2 separate regions of the Homo sapiens genome follow, and region 1 is linked to region 2. Evidence: fine-mapped expression QTL. A gene starts in region 2. The other region holds a variant in brackets. All regions are shown on one strand. Distances are between the middles of the regions.

What was found.
Region 1: its variant is fine-mapped to the expression of MIS12 in sigmoid colon (GTEx, PIP above 0.99).

The regions. Positions count from the first base shown.
Region 1 is chr17:5,452,481-5,468,337 of GRCh38, forward strand. It overlaps DHX33 (DEAH-box helicase 33), which reads right to left. Exons shown (of 12, transcript NM_020162.4): 2 at 11,049-11,209; 3 at 9,839-10,066; 4 at 8,459-8,629; 5 at 3,517-3,702; 6 at 2,680-2,791; 7 at 1,341-1,500; 8 at 1,100-1,188. Among named protein-coding and RNA genes, the nearest start is that of DHX33, 8.6 kb to the right of the region's middle. RefSeq lists an enhancer at 15,554-15,857. The variant C/G (reference allele first, on the strand shown) is at 7,456.
Region 2 is chr17:5,479,406-5,493,553 of GRCh38, forward strand. It overlaps MIS12 (MIS12 kinetochore complex component), which reads left to right and starts at 7,161. Exons shown (of 3, transcript NM_001258217.2): 1 at 7,161-7,279; 2 at 8,791-9,184; 3 at 9,418-11,406. The coding sequence starts at 9,458. The coding sequence ends at 10,075. DERL2 (derlin 2) reads right to left here and starts at 6,773. Exons shown (of 7, transcript NM_016041.5): 1 at 6,664-6,773; 2 at 5,746-5,811; 3 at 3,404-3,477; 4 at 1,891-1,984; 5 at 982-1,177; 6 at 649-739. The coding sequence starts at 6,756. RefSeq lists enhancers at 6,431-6,610, 6,651-6,710, 7,331-7,430, 7,671-7,780 and silencers at 6,881-7,040, 6,990-7,157.

The sequences.
Region 1 (15,857 bases), 26 kb before region 2:
AGTGAGCTGGGATCGCACCACTGCACTCCAGCCTGGGCAACAGAGTGAGACCCTGTCTCAAAACAAAAACAAAAACAAAAACATACTACAGCAGGGGCTTGGTGGCTCACACCTGTAGTCCCAGCTACTTGGGAAGCTGATGTGGGAGAATCACCTGAGCCCGGGAGGTTGAGGCTGCAGTGTGCTGAGAATGTGCCACTGCACTCCAGCCTGGACAACCAGAGTGAGACCCTGTCTCAAAAATAAATAAATAAATACATAAATAAAATCAAACACACTACATATACTCATATATGCATACATTTGCTCTAGAAGTCTACTAGAAAATGGTTCCAGTGGTTGTTCTAGGGGAAGGAAACTGTGAACCTGAGGATCAGGGCAGGACCCTTGTATACCCATCAACTGGTGACTTTGTGTTTTCTTTCCTTCTTTTTTAAACCAATTGCATTTCTTAAGAAAAGGGGGGGCAATAAAAAGAAAAGGAAAATGGTGCGTTGATGAGAGGCCAGGTGCCAAAGCCAATATCATAAATATTTCCAATTATTTTCTTCTTCTGTAGAGAAATTACTAATGAACAGGAGAGATGGATCAAATTCCAGTTAAAGGCAAAGAAATGTGATCTTTGCAGTCCCTGTGCTGATAAAAGTACAATTTCATTACATTTCTGTAGTATCCCAAGGACTCGCATGATGACCTTCACTGGTTCCAGAGGTCAAGGAACTTTATTGATGGTGCTGATAGTACAGAATCTATCGTTTCATAGCTAGGAACACTGGCGCATGCCTGTGGTCCCAGCTACTTGGGAGGCTGAGGCGGGGGGATCGCTGGAGCCCAGGAGTTGGAGGCTGTGATGGAGCCTGTGAATAGTCACTGCACCTCCACCTGGGCCACACAGTGAGACCCTGTCTCTTTAAAAGTCAATCAATGTATCTATCTATCATTTCATGATTTTCAGATGCTTCTCTAATAACTAATGTTGTCATCCACAAAATTAAATAAACAAAAGGAGATGACCAATATACTTTATTTTTTTGGAAGTGTCCATTTGTTGTTGTTTGTCTCCTCACCCACCTTCTGCAAAACTGTGGATTTCACTTACCTGGAGATGGCTTCGACATGAAGTCAAAGGTGAGCACATTTGGGACTTTCATTGCTAGAAGCTGAAGCATCACACTGGCCAGGTTACACCTGTGAAGAGCATGAGACCAGGGTCATGACCTGATCCCTCTGCCATTGAGTCAGAACCCCTCATGGTGGAGTGTGAGTAAAAACTGCAGCTCTGGGCAAGCAGGAGAGACATGGTGACAAACAGCAGCAGTGCAGGAGCAACTGGTGCCTACCTCTGGATCTCTGGCACGGTCATCTTATCAAACTTCTCAAACTCGTCCTCCGTGTAGAGCCGGTAGCAGATGCCACTGTCCTCTCTGCCAGCCCTCCCTGTGCGCTGCCAAGCCTGCGTCTTCGATACCCGCTGCACTGCTAACACCTCAAGACCACTGTCTGGATGGAGAGTGAGCCCCATTAGTGCTTCATCACATGAACAAACTCTTTCTACAGTGTCGATAAAAAGAAGCACACCAGTGGTTCTTTCAGCAACACGGGGGTCCAGAAAGCCTCAAGGCTAGCACAATGGACAGCACAAAACCAGACTGCTCCGCAGCGGTTTGGCCCTAGTGAAACAAGGCTTTGCCATAAGCCCACTGTGAAATCTGTTACAAAAACATCAGAAAAACCTCACGCATGCAGCAAGGGGCGAGAAGAGTAGTTTCCGAGGTCTTGCCTTAGATGGTAGGATGGCCAACCCCTCCAGTTTGCTTGGGACAGAGGGTTTCCTGGGATGTCGGATTTTGGGTGCTAAAACTGGGAGTTTCAGCAAACTAGGATGGGGGTCATACTATCAATCAATGACTACGAAATTAAATGCCTCAAATCACTTGTGTGCTTTATCCTCCCTCCCAGTTCTGCTGTAAGACAGAAATAATGTGATGTCTGTTTTCTAGCAGTAAATGAGGTTCATTTTCTTGATAAAGGTGTATCATTAGCCTGGCACTGGAGACCCAAGCTCTTTCACCTACGTCATCACAAAAAGATACACCTGTGGAAGCCAGGACCCTCAAATGTTTACTAGAGCATTTCAGTTCAATAATTGGGAGCAATAATTTCAGTGGTCTCAAATCCTCTGTGGAATAAAGCAAAGTATAAAACAGACATGAGTCAAGATGACCTTAAGTTAGCTTCTCACTGCACCTTCTTAGGAGAAGCCAGTGCTCCTTCCATGCCTCACCTCAGCCAGGAGATCTGGTTCCTTCCTGAGAAACCTGGGAGCTCAAACCAGCCATATATATATAGTTTCTGATGACACCCTTTGATTGACACCCAGCTGTCCCTGGCCTTAGAGCCGACTTCTGATGGGGTACCAGACCCTCTGCCCAGGTCCCTGACCCTGTGTGCCCAAGTTTGCTCAACCTGGGCTCTTCTTTCCTGCCTCTACTTCCTGTCTCACATACCCGCCTCAGGACTCCTTCGCGGACCTGGAGTGTAGGTGATCTCACTCATGGCGCCTGCCACCTGAATTTGTTAGTTACAAACATGAAACACTCAGGGGAAAACTGTGGGACTACAGTTTCAGTGGCTGCTCACTAGACACAGGAGAGACATTCATGAACTACAAATTCTCACCAGGGTTATACTTCTTTGCTTTAACCATGCCCGTGTCAACTACATATTTTATTCCTGTAATGGTTATGGAGGTTTCAGCGATGTTGGTTGAAATGATCACTTTGCGATAGCCCTAAAAGGAGGAAGAAAACCAAAAAGCCGCATTGACACACGGATGATTCAGAAGTCTTCAAACATATTCTCACCATTAACTTCCACAATTCACTCTTGACCAACAGAAGATGACTCCATTATTAATGGCAGTCATTAATATTAATGGTTGGTCATTAAACCGGGCAGGGGAAGGGGACGCTGCAGTCTTAAAGGTCAATTTGAGGCAATGAGATGCAGTGGAACAAGCACAGGAATCAGAAGCAAGTAGATGTGGGTTGGAATCGTGGCCCTGCCAGTGACTTACTATGCGCCCCCTTGAGCAATTGTTACTTCCCTTCTTGGGGCCTCAGGATCCCCATGGGATCATAACCTGCCTTGCCGGTTCCCACGAGGATGACAGACAGTGGATATAAATGCTAGCACAGTGCCTGGCACGGCAAAGGCACACAAGAAATGGCACTATGGACAAATGCAATTTATGCTGGTCCTTAGAAGTCACTCGTTTACCTTGCAGCTTTGGTTTATACTCTCCCTCATCCCAACAACTGTCTCCCTGCTCCTGTCACAGGAGCGCTGCGTGTGTCACCGCGCATTTTATTCCTGCACCTCCTCAGTGCGCTGATCTGGCACCTGGGTATCCCATCCCATACACCTTATCTGGAGCCTGGTAACAGGTACAGACCTCGCTGGTGGATCCGTCTGGGTGCCCAGAATAGGGCTGGACAGAAGAGGTGGTGCACTCACCTTTGGGGCCCCTTGGAAGACTCGGAGCTGCTGTGCATAGGGCAGGGAGGCGTACAGAGGAAGGACCAGCATCGCAGGGCAGCCGTCTGGGAGGTGCTTTGCAATGTCTCGGCACGTCTTGCTCATGGCTTCGATCTCCTCCTGCCCAGTGAGGAACACCAGGATGTCCTGTGAAGAAGGGGCTTCCTGTAAAAAAAGTAGAGTGGGTTTACTAGGCATTGATAGAATTGCAGCTTGCACAGAAAAAGACAATGGTGATTGATGATGTTTCCCAGAGTTATTTCTCTTAACTATAGAAATGTAAATGAGCCTAAAAGTTGATGTCTAGCTTGGAGAGAACCCTTACCAGCAGTGTGTAAATGGTAACAGGCTGGGTGTGATGGCTCACGCCTGTAAACCCAGCACTTTGGGAGGCTGAGGCGGGAGGATCGTTTGCAGCCAGGAGTTTGTGACCAGCCTGGGCAACGCAGCAAGATCCCATCTCTACAAAACACTTTTTTTTAAATTGGTCAGGGGTGGTGACACATGCCTATAGTTCCAGCTGCTTGCCACTCCACTCCAGCCTGGGCGACAGAACGAGAACCTGACTCAAAAACACAAAAAACAAAACTGTAATATATAGGAGTTAGCCAGCTATGTTTATAGGCCAAGTGATGAAATTTTGAAGGGAAATCATCAGATTGATTTTTCTAACAAGAACAATACCATGAAAAGCATAATCAGGCAAGCAAATAAAATCTGCATGAAGCTTCCTTTCTTTTATAAGCATCTTGAAAAATGAAGTTGACAAAACAGAAGGAAACTTGGGGAAATCCTAATCTATGGAAATGAACAGGCGCAGCCATGCTGGAGAAGGAGCCTTTAATGAATGACGCCGTCGAAAGCGCTTTCACACGCCCCAAAACACACACTATACTCGGACAACTGCTTGAGATACTGAGGTTAATGGGGTTCCTCACTTTCAAATGGAACAACACCCAAGTGTGAATGACATACCTAATGCCCTGATTTTTCTTTGATTTCTGATCAGATACATTAATTTGTTTGATGTAAAGTGCTTAACACTTTGGGAGGCCGAGGCGGCCAGATCACCTGAGGTCAGGAGTTCGAGACCAGCTTGACCAACATGGTGAAACCCTGTCTCTACTAAAAATACAAAAAATTAGCCAGGCGTGGTGGCGCACGCCTGTAATCCCAGCTACTCAGGAGGCTGAGGCAGGAGAATCACTTGAACATGGGAGGCGGAGGTTGCAGTGAGCCGAGATTGCATCACTGCACTCCAACCTGGGCGACAGAGCAAGACTCCATCTCAAAAAATAAATAAATAAAATGAAGTGCTTGATGGACTGGGCGCAGTGGCTCATGCCTGTAACCCCAGCACTTTGGGAGGCTGAGGCAGGCAAATGGGTTGAGGTCAGCAGTTTGAGACCAGCCTGTCCAACACAGTGAAATCCCATCTCTATTAAAAATACAAAAGTTAGCTAGGTGTGATCCCAGATACTCAGGAGGCTGAGGCACAAGAATCACTTGGACCTGGGAGGTAGAGGTTGCAGTGAGCCGAGCTCGTGTCACTGCACTCCAGCCTGGGCGACACAGTGAGACTCCATCTCAAAAAAAAAAAAAAAAAGTGCCTAATGGCAAAATAAATAGAAAAAAATTTTAATAATTATATGTATATTTATGTATATATGTAAAAATACGTATTTTTTAATATGTATTTTTTTTCAGCCCAGTATTAACAGAACAAATGTGCAGAGGGATACACAGACAGGATAAAATCTAAAACAGTCAAAACCTCATGAGTGGGAGAATTCATCAAAGCCAGTGGTAACCTAATGCACCAGCAGCCATCATTCATGAAAAATTCTCGTTTGCTTTCTGCAGCTGAACAAGGCAGACTTCTTCCCCAAACACTATGAAAACGACAGTAAAGGCCACTGTCTTAGAAAGAAAAGGCAATGAGAGATGAGGAGTCTCAACTCATTTTGGAAGAGAGGGGAAAGGGGCTGGATGACTTGGCTAGAGGGAGGAAACTACAAATTATGTTGTGGGAGAGTGAAAACTCAGGGATTGGTTCAAAGTCTGAGTATAGAGTAGTTAAAGCCTTCAGTTCCCTCTCCTACCCAGGACGGCCAGGAGACTGGGAAGCCATGGGTCTCACCACGGGAAAATGGTGACAAAGTGAAGAGTCAAGATGACAGCTGCACAAAGGCCCAGGAGAGCCACCTGCCCCAACTGGAACAGCAGCATAAAGGACTCTGAAAAGACAGACTGTGCTTGAACACAGAACTATACACGACTGGCATATGAGATGTTGGAATATTTGGGAGAAAATGAGCCAGAGCTACCCAGAAAGCTTGCACAACTGTGTTGTTCAAGAAACAAGGTACAGGGATGATGGTGTGCTACTAGCAATGTGTGGTCATAATATTCTTAGTATTGATACTGGACTCAGAAAACATCATAATAGGCCAGACACAGGTGTGCAAGCATGTAGTCCTAGCTACTCCCAATGCTGAGGTGGGAGGACTGATTGAGCCCGGGAGTTCACGACCAGCCTGGGCAACACAGCAAGATCCTGCCTCAAAAACAAAAACCTAAACAAAAACATGATAGAACTGTCAAGAGGTTGGAGATAAAGGGGGTTGGGGAGGGGCATTCTAAACTTTTGTCACCATGGTAAGAAATTAGCATATGATGCCTGATACCCATAACTCAAAAAATAGTGGTCAAAGCAAGGTAGTTTAGAAACATGAAAGCAATATGTAGAGATTGAAAGTAGGTGCCCTAAACAGCAGAAATCTGGGATGTTGAAGTAAAAACAACTGCTATTCTTTTATTATAAACCTTTTACTATAAACTACTTGACTTTTTAAAACTTTAAATCCCATATGCATCACTTATTTTAAAATAAAAATTGACTGGGCACGGTTTCTCACATCTGCAATCCCAGTGCTTTGGGAGGCTGAGTCGGGAAAATCACTTGAGGTCAGGAGTTTGAGACCAGTCCGGGCAACGTAGCAAGACCCTGTCTCTACAAAACATAAAAAAAAATTAGCCAGGTGTACTGGTGTGTGCCTGTAGTTCCAGCTACTCAGGAGGCAAAGGTAGGAGGACGGCTTGAGCCCAGGAGATCGAGGCTGTAGTAGCTGTGATTATGCCACTGCACTCCAGCCTGGGTGACAGAATGAGACCCCGTCTCTAAATAAGTAAATTAATTAAATAAAAAGTTATTTTAAAAGTTTGCCTCTGGATTTTCTCAGAAAGCTAATAGGAAGGTAAAAACATTAAATTTTATACAAATTAAACAAAAGTGACTTAATGATTCAAATTTTTGAAGTAAATGTTTAATAAAATGAGAAAATATTTTTAAATATTCTCCTAATATAGTTTAAAAAAAAAAGAAACTCTAAGTTGCAACCCATTATTGGGCTAATGTCAACTTTTTCTTTTTTTGAGATAGGATCTTGCTCTGTTTCCCGGGCTGGAGTGCGGTGATCATAGTTCACTGCAGCCTTAATCTTCCAGGCTTAAGTGATCCTCCTACCTCAGCATCCCAAGTAGCTGGGACTATAGGCATGCACCACCACACCTGGCTGATTGTTTGATTTTTAGTAGAGACAAGTCTTGCTATGTTGCCCGGGCTGGTCTCAAACTCCTGAGCTCAAGCAATCCTACCCACCTCTGCTTCCCAAAGTGCTAGGATTACAGGTGTGAGCTACTGTGCCCAGCCAACATTTTCTTTAAATGAGGCACAAAATATCAGAGTACCCTACATGTAGTAAAAGACACAGTACTTCTTCTTTAAAAAATAATTTTTATAATTTTTTTTATAGAGACAGGGTTTTGCTATGTTGTCAGACTGGTCTTGAACTCCTGGACTCAAGTGATCCTCCTGCCTTAGCCTCCCAAAGCGTTGGGATTACAGGTGTGAGCCAC[C/G]ATGCCTGGCCAGAAGCAGTGTTTCATAGACCTATTTCAGTTATATGTATAGCGTACGGGGTTGCAAAAGAAAAAGTACCTTTTTTTTTTTTTTTTTGAGACAGACCCTCGCCCTGTCACCCAGGCTGGAGTGCAGTGGCGCGATCTCGGCTCACTGCAAGCTCTGCCACCTGGGTTCGCGCCATTCTCTTGCCTCAGTCTCCCGAGTAGCTGGGACTACAGGCGCCCGCTACCACACCCGGCTAATTTTTTGTATTTTTAGTACAGACGAGGTTTCACCATGTTAGTCAGGAGGGTCTCGATCTCCTGACTTCATGATCCACCCGCCTCGGCCTCCCAAAGTGCTGGGATTACAGGCGTGAGCCACTGTGCCCAGCCAAAAGTACTTCTTAATGGCGGTTATAATCAAGGAAAGTTGGTAAGCTACTGCTTTAACATGAAAATTTTCTGGCTCAGTGTAAGAAAGCTGCTGGTCAGAACTGAATTATTTTTCTTTTCAATGAAAATTAGAGATATCATAAATAAAGGATAAAAATCCAGACACAGCAAATGAACTCCTTATTCATTGTTTTTTTTTTGTTTTTTTTTTCAGACGGAGTCTCCCTCTGTCACCTAGGCTGGAGTGCAGTGGTGCAATCTCGCCTCATTGCAACTTCCACCTCCCGGATTCAGGCGATTCTCCCACCTCAGCATCCCGAGTAGCTGGGATTACAGGCACCCGCCATCATGCCTGGCTAATTTTTGTATTTTTAGTAGAGATGGGGTTTCACCATGTTGGCCAGGCTGGTCTTGAACTCCTGACCTCAGGTGATCCACCTGCCTCGGCCTCCCAAAGTGCAGGGATTACAGGCGTGAGCCACCGCACCTGGCCTCCTTATTCATCTTGATGACACAACTCACAAAGTTGTTTTATTCAGTAGCTTTTCTTTTCAAGGCTCAATGTTCTCACTACCAACTGCAAGATAAAAGAGAACTTTTCAGGAATTTGCCCCCAGCACCATACCTGGTGGATCTGGAAGACGGAGACAAGCGCGGCGTGCAGGTAATCATTCTGAGGCTGTTTGGTGTAAAACACCTGGATCGGATGCTGCCGACCCTCTAGGTAGAGGACGGGGGCGCCATTGAAATACTGAGAGAACAGGTCCACATCCATCGTAGCTGACATCACAATCACCTGCATAAGAGAACGAAGAGGAGGACCAGAAACAAATAGTGGGAAGGCCTTTCCGTGTCCCTCTCGAGCCCCAAAAGCAGATGATTGAGGCCTGTGCCACCCCCATCACAGTTTACTTTCTTCCAAGGCTCTGAGCAGAACAGGCAGAGGAAAACACCCTGCTAGAGCACACAGGTCTGTTTCCTTTCCTTTCCTTCTTTTTTTTTTTTTGAGATGGAGTTTCACCGGGCACGGTGGCTCACGTCTGTAATCCCAGCCCCAGCACTTTGGGAGGCCGAGGCAGGCGGATCACGAGGTCAGGAGATCGAGGCCATCCTGGCTAACACGGTGAAACCCCGTCTCTACTAAAAATACAAAAAATTAGCCAGGTGCGGTGGTGGGCGCCTGTAGTCCCAGCTACTTGGGAGGCTGAGGTAAGCAATGGCGTGAACCTGGGAGGCGGAGCTTGCAGTGAGCTGAGATCGCGTCACCACGCTGCAGCCTGGGTAACAGAGTGCAAAAAAAAAAAAAAATCAAGACGGAATTTCAGTCTTGTTCAAGTGACTCTCCTGCCTCAGCCTCCCTAGTAGCTGGAACGACAGGCATGTGCCACCATGCCTGGATCATTTTTTGTATTTTTAGTAGAGACGGGGTTTCACCACGTTGGCCAGGCTGGTCTCGATCTCCTGACCTCAGGTGATCCACCGGCCTCGGCCTCCCAAAGTGCTGGGATTACAGGCGTGAGCCACCGTGCCGGGCCAATTATCTGGATACTTTCAGATCATATTTCTGCCAACTCCCTGAAATACAAGTTGTCTATAAAGTTATGCTATTTAATGAACTTTCACTTTTTTTTTTTTTTTTTTTTTGAGACAGAGTCTCGCTCTGTCACCCAGGCTGGAGTGCAGTGGTGTGATCTCAGCTCACCGCAACCTCCGCCTCCTGGGTTCAGGCGATTCTCATGCCTCAGCCACCCAAGTAGCTGGGATTACAGATGTGTGCCACCACACCCAGCTAATTTTTATATTTTTAGTAGAGACGGGGTTTCACCACGTTGGCCAGGCTGGTCTCGAACTCCTGACCTCAGGTGATCCACCGGCCTTGGCCTCCCAAAGTGCTGGGATTACAGGCGTGAGCCACCGCGCCCAGCCAGGCCTGTTTCCTTCTGTGTGTTACGCATACTTTCAGGGGAAGTTTCCCTCATACTTTCAGGGGAAGTTTCCCTCATACTTTCAGAGGAAGTTTCCCGAGTTCCTTTCTCCTCTTCTGTGCAGCTTTCACCACTCCAAAGAGCACATCTGTGTGGATAGTCCGTTCGTGAGCTTCATCCAAAATGACACAGCTGTATTTCCGAAGCAAAGAGTCTGAAATTGCTTCACGCAGAAGCATGCCATCTGTCAGAAACTTGATCCTGGTGTCTTCTGAGGTGACATCATCAAAGCGCACTGTATAGCCAACCTGTGCAGGGAAACAATTTATTCAGTCACCAAACATTTCTTGAGCGCCCACTGTGTCCGGCACTAAGTTGGGCACTTGCACTACCACAGTGAACAAGACCAACACCAACGCTTCCCACTCCCTTGGGAAGCATGCAGTCTAGCTGCTGAGAGAGACAATGGTCAAGTTTACTTTAACCGCAATTAATGTAACTATTACAAGGAATATTTAAAATTAACCTTCTACCTCAAGCTATTTAATAGTTTCATGTGGGCCGGGTGTGGTGGCTCACACCTGTAATCCCAGCACTTTGGGAGGTTGGGGCAGGCAGATCACGAGGTCAGGAGTTTGAGACCAGCCTGACCAACATGCTGAAATCCCGTCTCTACTAAAAAATACAAAAATTAGCCACTGGGTGTGGTGGCACGTGTCTGTAATCCCAGCTACTCGGGAGGCTGAGGCAGGAGAATTGCTTGGTTGGAGGCGGAAGTTGCAGTGAGCCAAGATTGCGCCACTGCACCTCAGCCTGGGCGACCGAGCGAGACTATCTCCAAAAAAAAAAAAGTTTCATGTGAAGCTATGTACAGATATGAAAAGACGTCTAAGGTATTTTTAAGTGAAATGAGTACACACACACACAAATAAATCTGTCTTATATACAGTTCTGAGACTCATTCTCAATACTCACATATACACTGGCATAATGCTTACAATTTTTCTAGAATGATATATAGATAAGAGAGTTAAGAGAGGTTACTGAAGGCTTAAGATGTTCAAGGAAAGCAACTAATTTATCCAACCTGACGACAGATTTTGAAAGCAAAGCACATGGGACCAATAGAGCCCCTGATCTCTCAGGAGCTGGTAAAGAACTCTCGGAAGAATAGGCAAGAAAGCAGCTCACTATGTAAAAGGAGTCTTGTTTAGAAAAATAAAAGGCAGTGGGCATGGGGAGAGAGCTGTTGAGTCAAGAAGTACTAATAGTCAAGAAGGAACCAGGTACCAGCTTCCCAAGTTCAGTTCTCTTCTCATCTGAGACTCTAGTAGCAAGAGAGATGGCAGCTACTCGACGAGGCTGGGTCACAGCAATGATGCCCTGGCGGCTGATCCCTCCTTCATACAGGTACTGAGGGATCTGAGTTGTCTTCCCAGAGCCAGTTTCCCCTAGGAGAGAGGGGGAAAAAAAAAAAAGGCTCACTGAAATGCAAACTGGGGCTCGGCACCAGGGCTGGCACCTATAATCTCAGCACTTTGGGAGGCCGAGGTAGGAGGCTCTCTTGAGCCCAGGAGTTCAAAATCAGCCTGGGCAACATAGCAAGACCCCGTCTCAACAACAACAACAATTAGCCTGGTGTGGTTGCATGTGCCTGTAGTCCCAGCTACTAGGGAGGCTGAGACAGAAGGATCATGAGGCCCAGGAGTTCAAGGTTACAGTAAGCCATGATTGTGCCACTGCATGCCAGCCTGGGAGATAGTGTGAGACACTGTCTCAAAAAAAATAATAAAAATAAAAAAAGAAATGCAAATCGGCTGGGCACAGTGGCTCATGCCTGTAATCCTAGCACGTGGGGAGGCCAAGGGAGGAGGATCACTTGAGCCCAGGAGTTGCTCCTGGGCAACATAGGGAGATGCCGTCTCTACAAAAAATACAAACATTAGTTGGACGTGGTGGTGCACGCCTGTGGTCCCAGCTACTCTGAAGGCTGAGGTGGGCATATTGCTTGAGCCTGAGAGGTTGAGGCTGCAGTGAGCCATGATCACACCACTACACTCCAGCATGGGCAACGGAATGACACCCTGTCTTAGAAAAACAACAACAACAAAAAGCAAATTGACATAAATTTCACCAAACAAACAGCTCAAAGTCAGAAGTAAAAGATAAAATACCCTGTGTTGGTAAAGCCTCAGGAGAATGGGCATTCAGGTATGTATACTGCTGGTGAAATTAGCTGGTTAATTGGTATTGTTTCTCAGGTGGTCAAATTATGTTTTTTAAATCTTTAAAATGTTTATATCCCTTGACCCACAATTCTACTTGCAGAAATTGATTCTAACAAAATAAGTAAACATGTGTATAAAGATACAGCTTCAAAGAGATTTTATTCAATTTTGCTCCTGACAGAAAAAAATTGGAAACAATATAAATGTTCAAAAGGTAATTTACATAGTTAAAATATAAAATAAAATACAACCGTTACATAGATTTCTGCATACTGACTGACATGAAGAGACATCCATTCATGCACTGCTGCCTTCAACTCCTGGCCACTCCCCAGCCTGCTGCCTCCCTTCAAACCCTCTGCCTCTGCCCACACTATGGGCAGAACACCTGCCCTCACACTGCCTGCCTCGCAAACTCTAAGATGAGTTAGGCCTCAAACACGCTCCCCTGGCTGCACAGTGGCCCTCCTCTGGGCTCCGTAGTGCCTTGTTCATCTCTCTTCCAGCACTGACCATCCTGTGTTGTACAGAAGCGTTTAAATGTGTCCGTCCTCCTCCAACACCAGAAGGGAAGCTCCCAGAGGGCAGTGCTCTGAATGTCCCTCTCGTGTACTTGAGTATTTTGCATACAATAAGCACGCAGTAAATGTTACTTCCTACCCTGTGTGAATTCCTTTAACAGTGCCTGATTAGAGCAAAGAACTCAGTAAACCTGCGCTTCCTTCCCCTCCCTCTAGCTACCACCAGGCCTCTCTGACTTCAAAAAGTCCTCCAGTCCCATGATTTGTGGGTTTTTTTCCCTGTCAGTCTGTCAGCCCCCTCTGACTGCTCATCCTTCCTGACCCAGATAAGAATCAGACAAAGGATTTGATTATTCTGCAATCTTCCTGCTGAATCCACTAGGCAAAACCCCAAACTTTGATCCATGTCTCTATCTTTCATGCTCCTATACCAGGGCAACAGAGCGTTGCTAAAGTAAAATACAAAATGCTTGGAACCAGAAGTGTTTTGAACTTTGGATTCTTTCAAGTTTTGTAATATTTGCATTATACTTACTGGCTGAGCATTTTAAATGTGAAAATCTGAAGTCCTAAATGCTCCCAAATCCAAAACTTTTTGAGCATCTGATATGACACTCAAAGGAAATGCTCCTTGGAGCCCATTCTTGACTTCGGATTTTCAAATTTGGGATGTTCCACCTATAATCTGGCTGTGCAGAAGCAAACCTGAGTTTATAGTGTAGCCGAAATGCACCTAGGCACCACTACTGCCATCGATCTTTTTTCTTGTTTTTGCAGCCTGTCTCGTCTCCATCCTCCCCAAGGGCCCACTTGAAGCCCAGTGACTCCCATTCTGAGCAGGGCTCCTGAACCTGTCTCACAGAAGTGGGGTTCTAAAATGTGGTCTCTCCCTAACTGCCCCTAGAAGCCCTTCTGCAGTGCACCATCCTTACATCCGTTCTCTAGCCCTGCAGCCTCTTAGCCTTCCTCCTCTTCCAGACCAGCCCTGCATCTAGCCCTTGTGGCCAAGTTCCCCCGTCCCCCATGCCTCCTGATCTTTGCTCTGTTAGCTCGATTCTATCTTCTGCCTCCCTCCCTACTGAGTTCTTCCCCTCAACCTCTGAATACAGATGGTCCCTGTCTTAGAACTGTTTGACTTCAGGATGGAGCAAAAGTCAAAATCGTACAGTAGAAACTGTACTTTTGAGTACCCACACAACTGTCACTTTCAGTATGGTATTCAATAAATTGCATGAAATATTCAAGACTTTATTATAAAATAGGTTTCATGTTAGATAATATCACCCAACCATAGGCTAATGTACATGTTCCGAGCACACTGAAAGTAGGCTGGGCATATTAAATGCATTTCCAACTTAGGATATTTTCAACTTATGAGGATGGGTGGATTCATCCACACATAACCCCATCCTAAATCGAGCAGCATCCATAAAGTTTCTCTCAGCTTCCCTCCTTTTTCCTCAAAACAGAAGCCTCTTCCCCCTGCTTTCAGCCCTCAGCTCAATGACAAATCAGCTGTTACCCACACAGCTTTGTTGAAATAGCTCTCGATGGGATGGATCCACGATCAATAGTGTCAGAGATAGTCTGTGAAAGTCATGAAAAATTTTATGAGAGGAAATGTATGCAAGAAATGTTTTACAATTTAAAAGTGATTAGGCCTCCTGAATGCTTTATAAAATGTCACCATAACTCTTAGCTGTAGAACTTGCCTGCTTTGCAGCTAGGTAAAACCTAGGACACATGGAGCTAAATGCTGAAATAAGCCAGACCTTAACTGCACTTCTGTCTAAGTCCTAGGCTGTACACCTAGCACATAATTAAAATCCCGAACTTACCAAGGTTTTCAACAAAGGTAAAGGTTGCTAAAAGTTAACAGTGTAACATGTATTTAAAACTATTGAAGAGACACTTTATGTGCAAGGTGTGTAAGGAAAGTAAAGTACACTTTCGGTAAAAAGATTATCAGGAGGGATAAGAATGCACATTTTTACCTACGTTAAAAGGTTAAATAATTGTTTTGAGGGGGCCAGGTGCGGTGGCTCACGCCTCTTTCTATATCAACCAATCGGGCCTAGTAAAAAGCGCTGCTAAAAAACGTAAAGAAAAGGCTAAAAAGCTAAGGGAGTACCAAAACCACCAAATGGACTCTTGGTTTGAAAACAAAATCATAGCATGGGTCATCCCATTCCTGGGCCCTCTCCTAATAATATGCCTGGAACTAATGTTCTTACCCTGCCTAATTAATCTTTTTCAAAGATTTTTAACTGACAGGATCATGGCAATTTCACAAACAACTACCCAAAAACATCTACAGACGGCATTGCTCCTAGTCAACCCGAGACCAGGAAACTCTCCATCCCCTCGTTGCAGGAAGTAGCCAGAAAGAACATGCCGTCCCTCCTCCTTTTTATAACTATAGGGTCTGGATTGACAAAGCAGGAACATCACCATCTTGGACAAGCCCCTCATTCAAAAGTTCACCTTAATAAAAAACCGCCTAAATCCAAAAGGTATCAGCCTAATGGCTAAGGTCAGCACGACCATAAACCACAAATAACATCTCCAGCCAGAAACATTCCAAACTCCTCCCCGACCAGAGACATGTTAAGGGATAACCCCACTCTGGCCGGGAATATGCCAGCCGGGAATATGCCAGCCGGGAGATAAACCCCCTCGGGCCGGAAAAATGTCTGCCCCAAGATAACATCCCCTGCTCCCAAAGAGTCCAACCCTGCCAAAAACTTCTCCACACATATAAACATTCCAAGCTTGTGATAAGCCCCCTCACCCTAACACCAATATATACTCTTAGTCTGTAAGAGAAAGGGCTCCTGACCGAAATCGGCCAGGAGCGCCTCTCAGGTTTTAACTAAAGAAAAGCTGTCTTTAACTGCCAGCCGCGTTTCGTGTTTCTTTCCTTTTTCTTTAACTCTTACAAATAGCTCACATCCAAATCCAGTGGGCATCACATCCAAGTCCAGTATAACCGGACTTGACTGCTGCATCTGCTCACTCTCTATTCCTTTGACTAGCAGCACTCATGGGTCTCCTTCCTCTCTTTGGCTGCTCATCCTTTCCGTCCTTCAGTATCTCCTCTAACACGTTGGGGATCATAAGCCCCATGAAATCAGTCCCTGCCCCACAACTCTGCCTCTTTTCATGCACCAGAAACTACACCTTCCCTTTCGACCGGAATGTGTTCAGGTTCCCATCTCTCAAACGGGCTTTCCCCCCTGCCTAGAATGCCCTCCCTCCCACACGACCTCCCCAGCCGCCTCCTCACAAACCGGGTCAGATCCACTCTTCTAAGATCCGCAAGCCCCCGGTACGTTTCTCTACCCTTTTAC
Region 2 (14,148 bases):
CCCAAGGATACCAAATTCCAGAGTAGAAAGAGGTCTCATAAATCAAAGTTCTACTGCACTCCAGCCTAGGTAACAGAGTGAGACTCCATGTAAAAAAAAAAAAAAAAAAAAAAAAAAAAAAGAAAGAAAGAAATCAAAGTTCTATCTCAGGAAACTGAAGTGCAAAAAAGAAAGGACTTGCTCTATGGCTGGTCAGTGGGACAGCTACACCTGGTTTCCAGTCCAAAGCTATTTCCACTCTGCTTCACTGCTTATCTCAACCACCTGCTTGGCAGGCCACAAAGTCCACCATCAGAAACTTTCATCAGTTTTGCCCATTTTGCTACCTTACTTCACTAAACGTGGACAGCAGCTTTCATAAAACCAGCAGGCTCCTACCAGAATAGAAGTTCTAGTGGTCATCTCTAACAATTACCAGGTTACTCCCAAGATATCTTGAGCCTGTTGACGTTGGTCTTGCCACAACCCTGGCACTGTCTGCTCCTACCCAGTCCAAGTGCTCTTCAACTGTAGCCAGAATGCTCAATCTGCAAATGGTTACTGACCTGAGCTATGTGTACTAGGAGCTAGGGGAGCCAAAGAAAACACAGATCATGCCCCTGTCCTGGTTTGCCTGTAAGAGTATGTAACCTGGTGTTAAATACTCACAAAATAGATGGTGTTTTCAGAATTCTTATTCCACCAGGTTGATTGGGAAATACATCTTCCAAGAAAAAATATATGTGTCCAACTGCAATACCTAGAGTCAAGCAGAAATAAAGGATGAGGGAGAGAATTAAAATTTAGATTGCAGGTAGACCTACCAACACAAATTGCCTATATTTAGGATGAATGTCAACATAATTATTAAAAATTAATGAACTAATATTGTGGTATTTTACAATAGGTAATACGTGAAGGCCAAACAGAATAAACATGAAAAATAGTAACAAAATACTTTTACAGGTAAAATAATTTAAAAAATAGTGAGAAGAGCCTTACCCAAAAGGTCCACAATGATTGAGTTCCCCAACAACAAGGAAAATCCCATGAGCACCCAGGGCAGAAAGGGGGCCTGGAAGTTGAGAAGGCCGAAGAAGTTCATGCGGACATAGGGGTTCCTTCGGCTCCACACATAGACGAGCATTATTGTAAAGGCCTGGCCCAAGAAAACTAAGCTCACAAACAGACCAAAAAGCTAGCAGATGGCATTAAGGAAAATATCAACATTAAAAGTTTAATAGGAAAGACTGAGCAGGAGAACTAAAGATTGTGTTCTAACAGAAGTTTGAATTGGAAAAGTCAAGTTGTTACATCTTTAGAATAGAAGGAGAAACACCCAGAAAATAATTACCCAGAGCAATCAGGCAAAAATCTGCTTAGGCTAAATTATCGAGATTTACAGCTACTTCAAACAAATACTCTGCTTTCGTGAAGTTCTTGCCTCTTTGGAAAATGTGTTAATTCTTCAGTCAATAATTATATTAAAGCTTGCTCACGATTAGCACCTTTACAGAGATGAATAAAGCTAGCTGGAACAAAACCATCTTGTCAGACCGTACCATATCTAAGTCTATTGTATAGATGAAAATTCTTTTTCTGAAAAAATAATTTATTGGTTTTGGTAGCCACCAAGTAAATGTCTTACCAACTTAGTTTAAAAGTGAAGTACGCCAAGCAGTAATGATATAACTGAGTTGCTTAACAGTAACCCACCTGGGTTAAAAGTTCCTTTGACTTGCTCATCCTGTCCGACTGCTAGGTTTGGAAACTTGTCACAGAAAATGTGCTGTAAAATAAATGATAGTGCCCTGAAGCTAAGATCTAGAGAACTGTGGGAGACAGATGACAAGCTTTAGGAAGAGCCAGGGTGTTCTTCAACATTTTCCCGTGTTGTTTGTTGAAGGATACGGTCATTAAGAATCCACCAAAAAGGAACATAAATACAAAGTCTGCTGTCCGACCTCGGAAAGAGCCTTCTTCTAGCATTCGACAGTAACGATATCTTAAGTTCCAAGTTAAGAAAATATTAAGCACACGAATATGAACAAAGTAAAAATTTAATGTTATCTTGTAAGTACACTTGGATTCCATATTATTTGTAATTAGTCAAGTCTTCATTTGTATAAGAATGTTTGAGTGGTAATGTGATTACTTTTTTACCAAGCATTTGAGAAAAGGTCAAGACCAGCATCATTTTTTACAAACTGTCCCTGGCTGGGAACTAATCCAGATGACACACAGACATGCTTTCAGTCCCCTATTCTTTTTTTTTTTTCTTTTGAGACAGAGTCTCGCTCTGTCACCTAGGATGGAGTGCAATGGTGCCATATCGGCTCACTGCAAGCTCCGCCTCTCAGATTCAAGCGATTCTCCTGCCTCATTCTCCTGAGTAGCTGGGATTACAGTTGTGTGCCACCATGCCAGGCTATTTTTTGTATTTTTAGTAGAGAGCAGGTTTCACCATGTTGGCCAGGCTGGTCTCAAACTCCTGACCTCGTGATCCACTGCCTTGGCCTCCCCAAGTGCTGGGATTACAGGTGTGAGCCACCACACCCGGCCCTCCAGTCCCCTATTAAACCTTTAAAAATTTGTATTGTCTTTCCTGTGCTCAGCCACACCTTAATATGCACCATCTTTGCTTTCCCACATCCTAACTTGGAAGAAATCCGCAGCAAGAAGCCTTGTGTGCTCAACTACTTTTCCAGCCTGGCAGGTTGAGCACCTCAGTCAATAAAGATGAATTACGATGAGAAAAAACTTTAATGGAAACTTATCAGAATGATATCCTACATAGGATATAAAATGGATTCCTGCCATCCTCAGGAAGGAATGCAGCTGCAGATGAGTTGAACTGTAACTCCCTCTTAATACAGAGGGCAGGGGTGGAAGAGGAATGCCCTGCTCTGTGGCCCCAATTACCATTGGATCAGAGCTGGGGTTTTCCTTTCAACAAACCGGAACTTGACAAGCCCAGCAGACACAACCACTGTCTTTCAGCCAGTAGTTCCAGCAACCAGGACCCAAGGAGATCTCAGGTTCCCACTCCTCATGAACCCATTCCAAAACTTATGCCCAAATTCTGCTGAATTACCATTGCATTCAGGTTGTTTTACGGCTTCGAACCTGTTGGTTACTGTGGAGGTATGCCTCAGTTAAATCAATTCTCCCCTCCCTTGATCAGATTTGTAAGTAACAAAAGAGCAGAAGTGCTATCTTTTTATGGTTAAAACCTCCCATTTGAACAAAGTGACCTACAGACATTTTCAAAACATTACTACCTAAGCAACTACTTTATGTACCACTGACCCAGAAATCATAGCTAAGATGGTACCAAAAACAAGTAACAGGATGAAAAGTTTCAACTTAATTTTTTACTTCCTAAGAAAAAGTTTTGATGCTGACCCCATTTAATAAAGGATACAGAAAAATCATGTTAAATAAAAAATTGAATCCAACTGGCCCAAAAAATAAGAAGTTGGTGATTAATCTCCATATCTGTTAAAAAAAAATCAAGAGAAAGATGTATTAAGTAAAATAAATTACCAGGAAACAGTTCCATATTAATACAAAAGAAACATCCTATGACTGCGGTGGTTGAGAAGCCTTGGACAGAGTGATACTCTGTTCTGAAACAAAAACGGGGGCATATAATCTGATGTTAGATTTTTTTTGCTGCTTTTAGTTCAAAGTCTGAAAGACATCATTGGGACTGTGACATTTATAATAATAGGAAAGAAAATTTTAAATTGTGATCGTCGTATGGAGAAAGTTTGCTGGAAAGACTAGGTTAATCGGCAGAACAGAAAACAGTGCTTTCATATGTAGTATCATCATATAATAAATAGAACTGACATATCAGAGAAAAACTTCAGGGTCTAATATAAATTGCTGAGAAATGTTTACATTAGGCAGTCAGAAACATCTAAAAGAAAGGAAAATTCTTTTTTTTTAAACTAAAACTTAAAAAAAAAAAAAAAGAGATAGGTTCTCACTATGTTGTCCAGGCTGACTCAAACTCCTGGCCTCAGGGGATCATCCACCTCAGCCTCCCAAAGTGCTGGGATTACAGGCGTGAGCCACTGCACCCTGCCAAACACTTATTTTCTTGTTGGAAACCCTGATAGACCCTTCCCTACCCAACATCTCCACACCCACAGTAACCACTCTCAATTGTAGAGTGCTTAACGTTTTAAAATGTCTACTATCTCTTGTGATCCACAGACAAGCAAGCTACCCCCAATTCACAGATAGGAGACTAAAAGTTGACTGACTAGCTGAATACTAGTTATTCAGCTAAAAGTTGAACTTTTAAATGTCCTGACCAAGGACCCGCAGGAGTAGATGGAAACTCTGATGGCAAATCTAGAACTCCTAACTCCAAATGCACAGTGTCATCAAGAGTTTAACCCCAGGCAGAGTAAAGCCAAGTAGGAAGCAAGACTTACTTGGATGGAACTACAGCGCCATGTGAGTATTGTGCGAACACAGTGACAAGAGATGACAGGACTGCTTTACAGACCACTAAATTCTTGAGAATTGTTAACTATTAAAGTTGAAACAATTCAGTTCTACATATTAATTATCCAGATTTTAGAGTCCTCATCCTAGTGAGGAGACAAGCATACGCATAACTGCAAAGTAAAAGTGAGAGATGTTCTAAAACAAAGGAGGATGAGTACATAAAGGTTACACAAAAGCTGCGTTTTGAAAGGCAAGCTAGAGTTCAATGGATATAAAGTGAATGAAACACATTTGAGACAGACAGAACAGCATGTGTAGAGGCACAGTTATTGGCTTTTGGGTCTCTCCCCTACTCCAACTATGGTAAGATCATCCTGGAACAGAAAAATCCATCTCTCTTTTAGCATTTTATTTTGAGACAGGGTTTCGCTCTTGTCTCCCAGGCTGGAGTGCAATGGCACAATCTCGGCTCACTGCAACCTCCGCCTCCCGGGTTCAAGTGATTCTCCTGCCTCAGCCTCGCCAGTAGCTAGGATTACAGGCATGTGCCATCACGCCTGGCTAATTTTTGTATTTTTAGTAAGAGACAGGGCTTTACCATGTTGGCCAGGCTGGTCTTGAACTCCTGACCTCAGGTGATCTGCCTGCCTCAGCCTCCCAAAGTGCTGGGATTACAGGCGTGAGCCACTGTGCCCAGCCTCTTTTGGCATTTTAATCACTGGAAAGGACCATCTCCCATTGTAATCTAATAAACCACCATATAGCTTTAGATGTTTGGAATTTGGTTAGTATGATCTGATCCCTGGAAGACAGATCACAATTTAAAAGCACTAACAGAATTGAGTTTCTGGACCATGGTGATAACACCAAGGTGGTGGGTGTGCCTAGGTGCTGAATGGACAAAATAAGGCCATCCCTGTGAGACAACCCCTAAGCAGCTAGCTAGTCAGCCTCCTCTCATAGGACAACGTTAAGTCTAAACCAGTGATTTCCAAATACAGGAACTGGACACATCAAAACGATGCAGGGAACTTTAAAAATAAAACACAGATTTTAATTCCTACCCTTGCAAATTCTGATTTGGTACTTGTTGAGGAGCTTGAGAATCTCTTCAAAGTTCCCTAAGGGATTCTCAAGTCCAACCAGGCTGCAGAATCACTGCTTTATATCCTGACAAGGCAACTTATAATCAAAGGTCCCCACTGGGTTCTTTTTTAGGATAGTGTATAACAGGATTTGCTACTAAACAGTAAGAAAAAGAAGAAACTGAAGCATTAATCACTATTGTGATGAACCACTTACTTGAAAGTGTTTAAAGATTAATTCAGGATTGAAGTACAACTGAAAAGGTGTGATCAATTCCAACTGCTGAAATAGAAAAAGAGCTTCTTAAAGCAAATCAAGAAACAAAATTTCATCATTTACAACAAAGAATTAGTAGGTCTAGCAATTTCCAACTCTCGGTCACTTAGACGTGATTTCCTTTAAGCCTTTCTTCTTAGGCCAGAGGAAGAGGTTGGTAAAGAATTCTCTAGGATTGGTAGAATTCTTTGTATCCTCAATACCTAACACAAAAAAGTCTGTTTTATGTTGCAATAGTTGAGGCTGACATGAAGAAATGAGGCAGACAGGTGGTGATATTTTAGACACAGGACAAATAAAAACAGCTGCTATGAATCTACCCACCACATGGGCACCACCTGAAACAGCTGTATGAAACAACAAAACTCACTTGAAATAACGGAGACTGGAGACCCTGCCACCGTTAGGGCTGGGTACCTCCAGCTAGCCCCTTATTTAGATCCAGAGACCCTTTTTATTATAAGCCATTCCCCTCTCGACAGTTTCCAGCTTGCTTTCCCCATTCCTGTTTCTTCACTAAACGGACCTTCCTCTCACTAGTCACCATGGTACCACCTGGCCATTGGCAGAGCTCTCGGACACATTTCTTGGGTGGGAGGCTCCCGCAACCCTAACCCGCTATAGGTCCGGCGCTCATCTCTTAGAAACTGACCTGACCCCCCATGAAGCAGCACTCCCTTCTCGCGTCACTGGATAAGCATTCTTGGCGCCAACTCGAACCCCAGAGTAATCCCTGTACGCCTCCACCCATCCCCGGGACCAGCCCCTCTGGGCCTCCCCGAGGCCCAAACCCCAGTTTCCTGAAGACCCAGTCATATCCAGCCCAGATAATGAGAAGGTGGCACTGCAGCTGCTCACCACGGCGGCGGTGGTGAGGACGCAGGCAGTGGTGTAGGCGCGGCTGACCGGTGGGATCTGCAGGTACTCCAGCCGCAAGCTCTGGTACGCCATCTTCCCCACCGTCGCCTGCCCCACCCCCCACCCACCCCATTTCCCCTTCCGCCAGCAGGCCCCGGCGGCGGGGCGGGCCCAAAGGCCCCCCGCCCACTTTAGTTTTCCCGCGACTGCCCAATCAACGCCAAGCAACCGCAATCCGTAGAGACCTAAGGAACGCACATCCGCCAATCACGAGTTGCGTCGCCACCGCCCCCCCCCAGCGCCCCATCTCCCCACCCTCTCTTCTCCACCAGCCAACGTCCGGGAAAAACGAGTAAGTACAGGTTCCTTCTGCCAATCCCCGCCGGCCACAGCTAACTTTCCCGCCCGGCCCCTTTCTGTCATAATTGAGGTGTCCACAACCAGCCAATCAGGAACGCGAGAGTATCCCGCGTTTGCTTTCGCTCGCCGAGGCGCGTATCAGTCGGAATTTTGGGGAGCCAACCGCGCCGTCTGTCCCTGGCAAGCCAGCGGCGGTTTAAAGGAGGTGGCGGGAAGCCTGTGTGTGCTTCAAATCGTCACCCTCATGGTCGCTCCGGTAAGTGCTGCGGGGCAGCATTTTCTCTGAGGAGGAGCGGGGACGGGCGAGACTGGCATAAGCGTCTTCGCGAGGGAGCAAGGCGGCCTGTGGGTCGGCCTCACCCCGGCCTCCGACCTGAAGATCCCAGCATGCAGCGCGGGCGCGGGGCCCGACGGAAGCCGGGAGCCGGCCGGAAGCAGTTCCTGCGCTCTGGCTTCTGGGTCCTGTCCTGCGCGATCGCGGGGTCTTAGACAGCTCAACTCGCCGAGATGACCTGGGCACCTCTGCGTTGAATCGGCAAATACTGATCAAGCCGCATTTATTCTGCTCTCAGGAACTCTAAGTCTAGCAGAGAAGATGAGGCGGTAGAAGTTCATCAGTCAGTGCCCGAAGAGAGGTCCTAATGGGAATTCGAAGAAAGGAGTTAATCAAGGAAGTGTATTTTTTTGTTGTTGTTTGAGATGGCGCCCACCTGTAATCCCAGCTACTTGGGAGGCTGAGCTAAGAGGATCACTTGAACTTAGGAGGCAGAGGTTGTAGCGAGCCGAGATCATACCACTGTACTCCAGCCTGGGCGAAAGAGTGACACTTTGTCTCAAACAACAACAACAACAAGAAAATTAGCCAGGCATGGTGGCCTGCACCTGTTGTCCCGGCTACTTGGGAGACTGAGGTGGGAGGATTGCTTGGGCGCGGGAGGTTGAGGCTGCAGTGATCTGTGATCGTGCCACTGCATTCCAGCCTGGGCGACAGAGCGACAACATGTCTCAAAAGAAAAAAAGAAAAACAGAAAGAAATCCTACCTTACATATACAGCCAAACAGTTATAACCACTCCATATTTAACCATTACAAACGTAAATTTTTATTTTATTTTATTTTTTGAGACAGAGTCTCGCTCTGTTGCCCAGGCTGGGGTGCAGTGGCACAATCTCGGCTCACCGCAACCTTCGCCTCTCGGGTTCCAGTGATTCTCCTGCCTCAGCCTCCCGAGTAGCTGGGATTGCAAGTATCCACCATCACGCCTGGGTAATTTTTGTATTTCTAGGAGAGATAGGGTTTCGCCATGTTGGCCAGGCTGGTCTCGAACTCCTGACCTCAGGTGATTCGTCCATCCGGCCTCCTAAAGTGCTGAGATTACAGGCATGAGCTATCGTGCTCAGCCTACAAACATAAATTCTTAAGATTGGCTGCATCTTATCTTCCCATAAGATTTGACTGTACTGCTTATTGCAAATTATTTCATAAAGTGCGTCCTAAATTCACCTGATAATTGAAGTAGCAGTTTGTTTTAGCTAATTGCCTTTATCTGAAGGAATAATAAAATTTCTCTTATTTCTATGACAAGCAATATCATTTCATCTCAGAAAAAGATGCCTAGGTTGAATTCCCACAATGACAAGGAGATAGGGGTTTTATTTTCCTAGATGTTTATATTTGAGAGGAATTACTCGCAGACCCTTGAAAAAACATGTCAGGGTTATAAAGCTGACAAGGGACTTACTCATCTTCTAATTGGGTTTTTTTCAGATGGCTTGGCTGGAGGACAAGCAAATTGAGGACATTGGCAACGGAGTGATCAAAATGATAGATCATGAGGCCTAAAATGAATAAGGAAAGAAGAGAAGTGGCAGAGGCTGAGAACAGAAAGAGAGGGTGGAGGGGCTGTAAATCTTGAAGATTAGGGTATAATATGAGTATATGGGTAAGAATTGGAAGAATTGTGTAGGAGGCAGTAGTCAAAAAGTAGAAGCAGTTTGGAAGAGTAGTTACAAATATCAAGAGCCAGGTGGCTAAAAGGTGGAGCTATAGGTCATTGAAGCTCAAGAAACTGAGTCTCTAGGGCATTGGTTAAGTCATCTGTCTAGACTTCAAAGTTGTCTAGGATGATAATTCAGAAGACTGATCTGTGCCAAAGTCACAGGTAAGGGAAGTGAACAACGAGGAGGGGAAAAGGGAGGGTATAGGCTGATGGAAGGAGCCTCAGAGAGGCAAAGAGTTTATATCCTGTTGTGGGAGTGGCATCAGGTATAAAGGAACACAAACTCCTTATTTTTTATTGATTTGCTTCTTTGTTTGCTATCTGTAATGTGATTGGTTACTTCCTGCAGAAGATTTTTTTTTTCCAAATGAATTATTTCCTTTTTACATTTGCAGGTTTTTCACGACTGAAAACAACATAGCAAAATAAGCCAAGATGTCTGTGGATCCAATGACCTACGAGGCCCAGTTCTTTGGCTTCACGCCACAAACGTGCATGCTTCGGATCTACATTGCATTTCAAGACTACCTATTTGAAGTGATGCAGGCCGTTGAACAGGTTATTCTGAAGAAGCTGGATGGCATCCCAGACTGTGACATTAGCCCAGTGCAGATTCGCAAATGCACAGAGAAGTTTCTTTGCTTCATGAAAGGACATTTTGATAACCTTTTTAGCAAAATGGAGCAACTGTTTTTGCAGCTGATTTTACGTATTCCCTCAAACATCTTGCTTCCTGAAGATAAATGTAAGGAGACACCTTATAGTGAGGAAGATTTTCAGCATCTCCAGAAAGAAATTGAACAGTTACAGGAGAAGTACAAGACTGAATTATGTACTAAGCAGGCCCTTCTTGCAGAATTAGAAGAGCAAAAAATTGTTCAGGCCAAACTCAAACAGACGTTGACTTTCTTTGATGAGCTTCATAATGTTGGCAGAGATCATGGGACTAGTGATTTTAGGGAGAGTTTAGTATCCCTGGTTCAGAACTCCAGAAAACTACAGAACATTAGAGACAATGTGGAAAAGGAATCGAAACGACTGAAAATATCTTAATTGCTCAGTAGTCAAAAGGAGGAGCCTGTCAAAAAGTAGAATCATAAGGACTGTTCAAACCATAAGGACTGTTCAAATCATACCAGTGACTGTTCAAACCAACCATACTTTTTATTAGATTTGCTTTGTCAACTCTTTCTTGTATTCTGTGTTTTCCTCTTTTTTGGTCCACTTTGCTGAGGTATGAAGTGTACTACTTTGAACTAGGCTGAAGCATCTGAGTCTTCTAATAAGTGGGAAGGGATCCAACAAAGAAGCCATGACCAGTTAAAGATATTTGCAGAGTTACACCTTGGTCATAAGTCCTTTGTGACCTTGATTATTTTGGCTTACTCTTTGGATGAGACCAGACAAGAAAAGGATTAAACGGGTGGCTCCTTTAATATTATTATTATTGTTTTTGAGACAAGGTCCCTTTCTGTCACCCAGGTTAGAGTAGATTTCAGTGGCACAATCTTGGCTCACTGCAACCTCTGTGTCCTGGGCTCAAGTGATCCTCCTGCCTCAGCCTCCCAAGTAGCTAGGACCACAGGTGCGTGTCACCATGCTTGGCTAATTTTTTTGCAGAAACGAGGCCTCACTATATTGTCCAGGCTGAGTGGCTCTTTTATTAACCAGTCATTACACTGCGGAACAGCCAACATAGAGTACTTGCTCTCGTCCTGTGAATTTTCTTTCATGAGGGAGTCAATATGTAGTGGAAAGAAGCATGTAGCAAAAAAGACAACCTTGATCTTTAATAAAAAAGAAGTTGGTTTATTTCCAAAATAAATCCCCTGACAAAAAACCTGGTGATGTTAAGCAATTGACTGTCTTAGAGTCCAGCAGAAGACCTTAGACAAAAAAAGCAGAACCCACTGGAGTAGAAAAGGAAGCATGTAGCATATACTCAGTAGTGAAATTTAATTTTACTGACTGTTAGGTATCTATGCCAATTTGTTTTCATACTTCAGTTGGTTTTGGAATCTGCCTTATACCTAATATTTATTTATTCACACTCATAAGCATCAAATATTTAATGCCCTCAGTGGGAAATTTGTGTTTAAACTCAATGGAATCTAATATTTCTTTATGTCGTTAGTCCCTGTAAAATGTTAGGTCACCCAAGGAAAGGGGAGAAATAGCAATGGTTGTTCCTAAGGTATTGCTTGCCCTCCATGTCTTCCTAAAGAGCAGAACTTGGAGTTTCTCCTTTATGTAGAGAAGAAGTAACTTAGGGTGTATTTGCAATGAAATATTCATAGATATTGAAAGCTTGTGTTTACATGAAATATGTTTATTATCAAGAAGTCCTTTTTCCAATTCTGTACATTAAATATATGTGTTTTAAAGGGTTTGGTTTTTTATTTTCTGCTGTCTATAATGCCATGGTATATTTCTTTCCAGTATGACTTTTTACTCAATTGAAAACACTATCTTTTTCACATTTATAGCTTATTCAGAATCTGCTGTAGTGGGTCGAACAGTGATCCCTCCGAAGATAGGTCCATGTCCTAATTCCTGGAACCTGTGAATGTTGCCTTATTCAGCAAAGGGGTCTTTACAGGTATAATTAAGGATATGGAGATAAGGAGATCATCCTGCATTATTTGGATGGACCCTAAATCCAGTGAAAAGTCTCCTTAGAAAGGCAGAGGGAGATTTCAGACAGAAAAGGAGGAGGTATTAGGACCTAAAAGCAGGTTGGGGCCGGGCATGGTGGCTCACACCTGTAATCCCAGCACTTTGGGAGGCCTAGGTGGGCAGATCACTTGAGGTCAGGTGTTCAAGACCAGCCTAGCCAGCATGGTGAAAACCTGTCTCTACTAAAAATATAAAAAATTAGCCAGGTGTGGTGGCACATGCCTGTAATCCTAGCTACTCGGGAGGCTGAGGCAGGAGAATCGCTTGAACCCGGGAGGCGGAGGTTGCAGTGAGCAGAGATCGTGCTACTGCACTCCAGCCCGGTGACAGAGCAAGACTCCATCTCAGAAAAAAAAAAAAAAAAAAAAAGTTTGGAGTAATGCAGCCCCCACAAGCTGGAAGAGGCAAAGAAGAGATTCTGCCTTAGAGCCAACAGGTGGATTGCATTTCTGGCTTCCAGAACTGTGAGAGAATATGTTTTAAGTCATCAGTTTGTTACAGCAGTCACAGGAAACAATATACCTATTAGTAGGCATGTTAGTGAAATCAGAATATTGAGATGTTCATGAGGATATAAGCTATCTATTAAGGAAACTACTGCTGAGGCCTTGACATTATTATATGCAGTAATATGGTTCATCTTAATACAGTTAAGTATGGTCATGACCTGGATAGAAGGGTGAAATCCAGTGTTTGAACTCGGGTCCATTTTGTGTTGAGTACATGCTTAATAATTGCTGGACATTACTGTTGCTGTTTGTTATGGTGGTGTCTCTGCAGAAATAATATAGTTGACCCTATCATCCTCTAAAAAGTAAATTCTCCCTTCAGAAATTTATGACTAAATCAGAATTATATACAGTTGTTTACCCATTCTCTGCTTCCCTGGAATGCAAGGTTGTTTTAACGTGTGAAAATGCATCAATAGAACAGAATAAATAGAACCACTATAGAATAAAGGATAAAATTGTCCCATCTCCCATCCAGCATCAATCTCACCCAATTTCTCACTTTCCCCCCCACCCCAATATGAGATCCCATTGTTCTGTAATACCAAACCTTCCCTGGTTTTATTTATTCTCTACTGTCATGCCTATTCACCATTACATAATGGATGTAAATGCAAAAAAAAAAAAATTCTTAACATAGCTGGGTGCAGTGGCTCATGCCTGTAATGCCAGCACTTTGGGAGGCTGAGGCAGGCAGGTCGCCTGAGCTCAGGGGTTCAAGACTAGCCTGGGCAACATGATGAAACCCTATCTCTACTAAAATACAAACATTAACCAGGTGTGGTGGCACGCTCCTGTAATCCCAGCTACTTGGGAGGCTGAGGAACAAGAATTGCTTGAACCCGGGAGGTGGAGGTTACAGTGAGCCGAGATTGCACCACTCCACTCCATCGTGGGTGATAAGAGTGAGACTGTCTCAAAAAGCAAAAAACAAACAAAAATTAGCCAGGTGTGCTGGCGTGCACCTGCAATCCCAGCTACTCAGGAGGCTAAGGCACGAGAATCACTTGAACCCGGGAGGCAGAGGTTTCAATATGAGACGAGGTCCTGCTGCCGCACTCTAACCTGGACAACAGACTGAGACTCTGTAAAAACAAACAAACAAACAAACAAACAAAGCCAGGCATGGTGGCTCACGCCTGTAATCCCAGCACTTTGGGAGACTTGATGTGGGAGGATTGTTTGAGCACAGGAGTTCAAGACCAGCCTAGGCAACATAGTGAGACCCCATCTCTACAAACACTAGAAAAAATCAGCCAGGCATGGTGGTGCATGCCTGTAGTCCCAGAGACCTGGGAGGCTGAGGTGGGAGGCTAGCTCAAGCCAGGGAAGTTGAGGCTGCAGTGAGCCATGGTTATGAACACTGCACTCCAGCCTGGGTGACGGAGTGAGACCCTGTCTCAAAAAAAAAAAAAAAAATACTCAACAAAATATAAGTAAATCAAATCCAGTAGTATATAAAAAGGATTATACACGATGACCAAGTGGGATTTATCCCAGGAATGTAAGGTTGGTTTAACTGCTGAAAATGAATTAATGAAATACACCACCTCAATAGAATAAAGAACAAAAACCCTATGATCACCTCAATGGACACATAAAAACATTTGACAAAATTCAACACCCCTCCATGCCAAAAACACTCAACAAACTAGGAACAGAAGGGAATTTCCTCAACCTGATAAAGGACATCTATGAAAAACTCACAGCTAACATCACACTTAATGGTGAAATACTGAATATCAGGAAAGAAAGCAAAGGAGGCCCACTTTCAGCATCCTATTCAGCATTTGCTGAAGATCTTACCCAGGAAAGTTTCCCAAGAAAGAGAAATAAAAGGAATCCAGATTGGAAAGACAGATCGTATCTGCAGATGATATAATCTTGTAGAAGACCATTCTGTTGTCATCTTAAACTATTAGAACTAATAGTTATGATTAT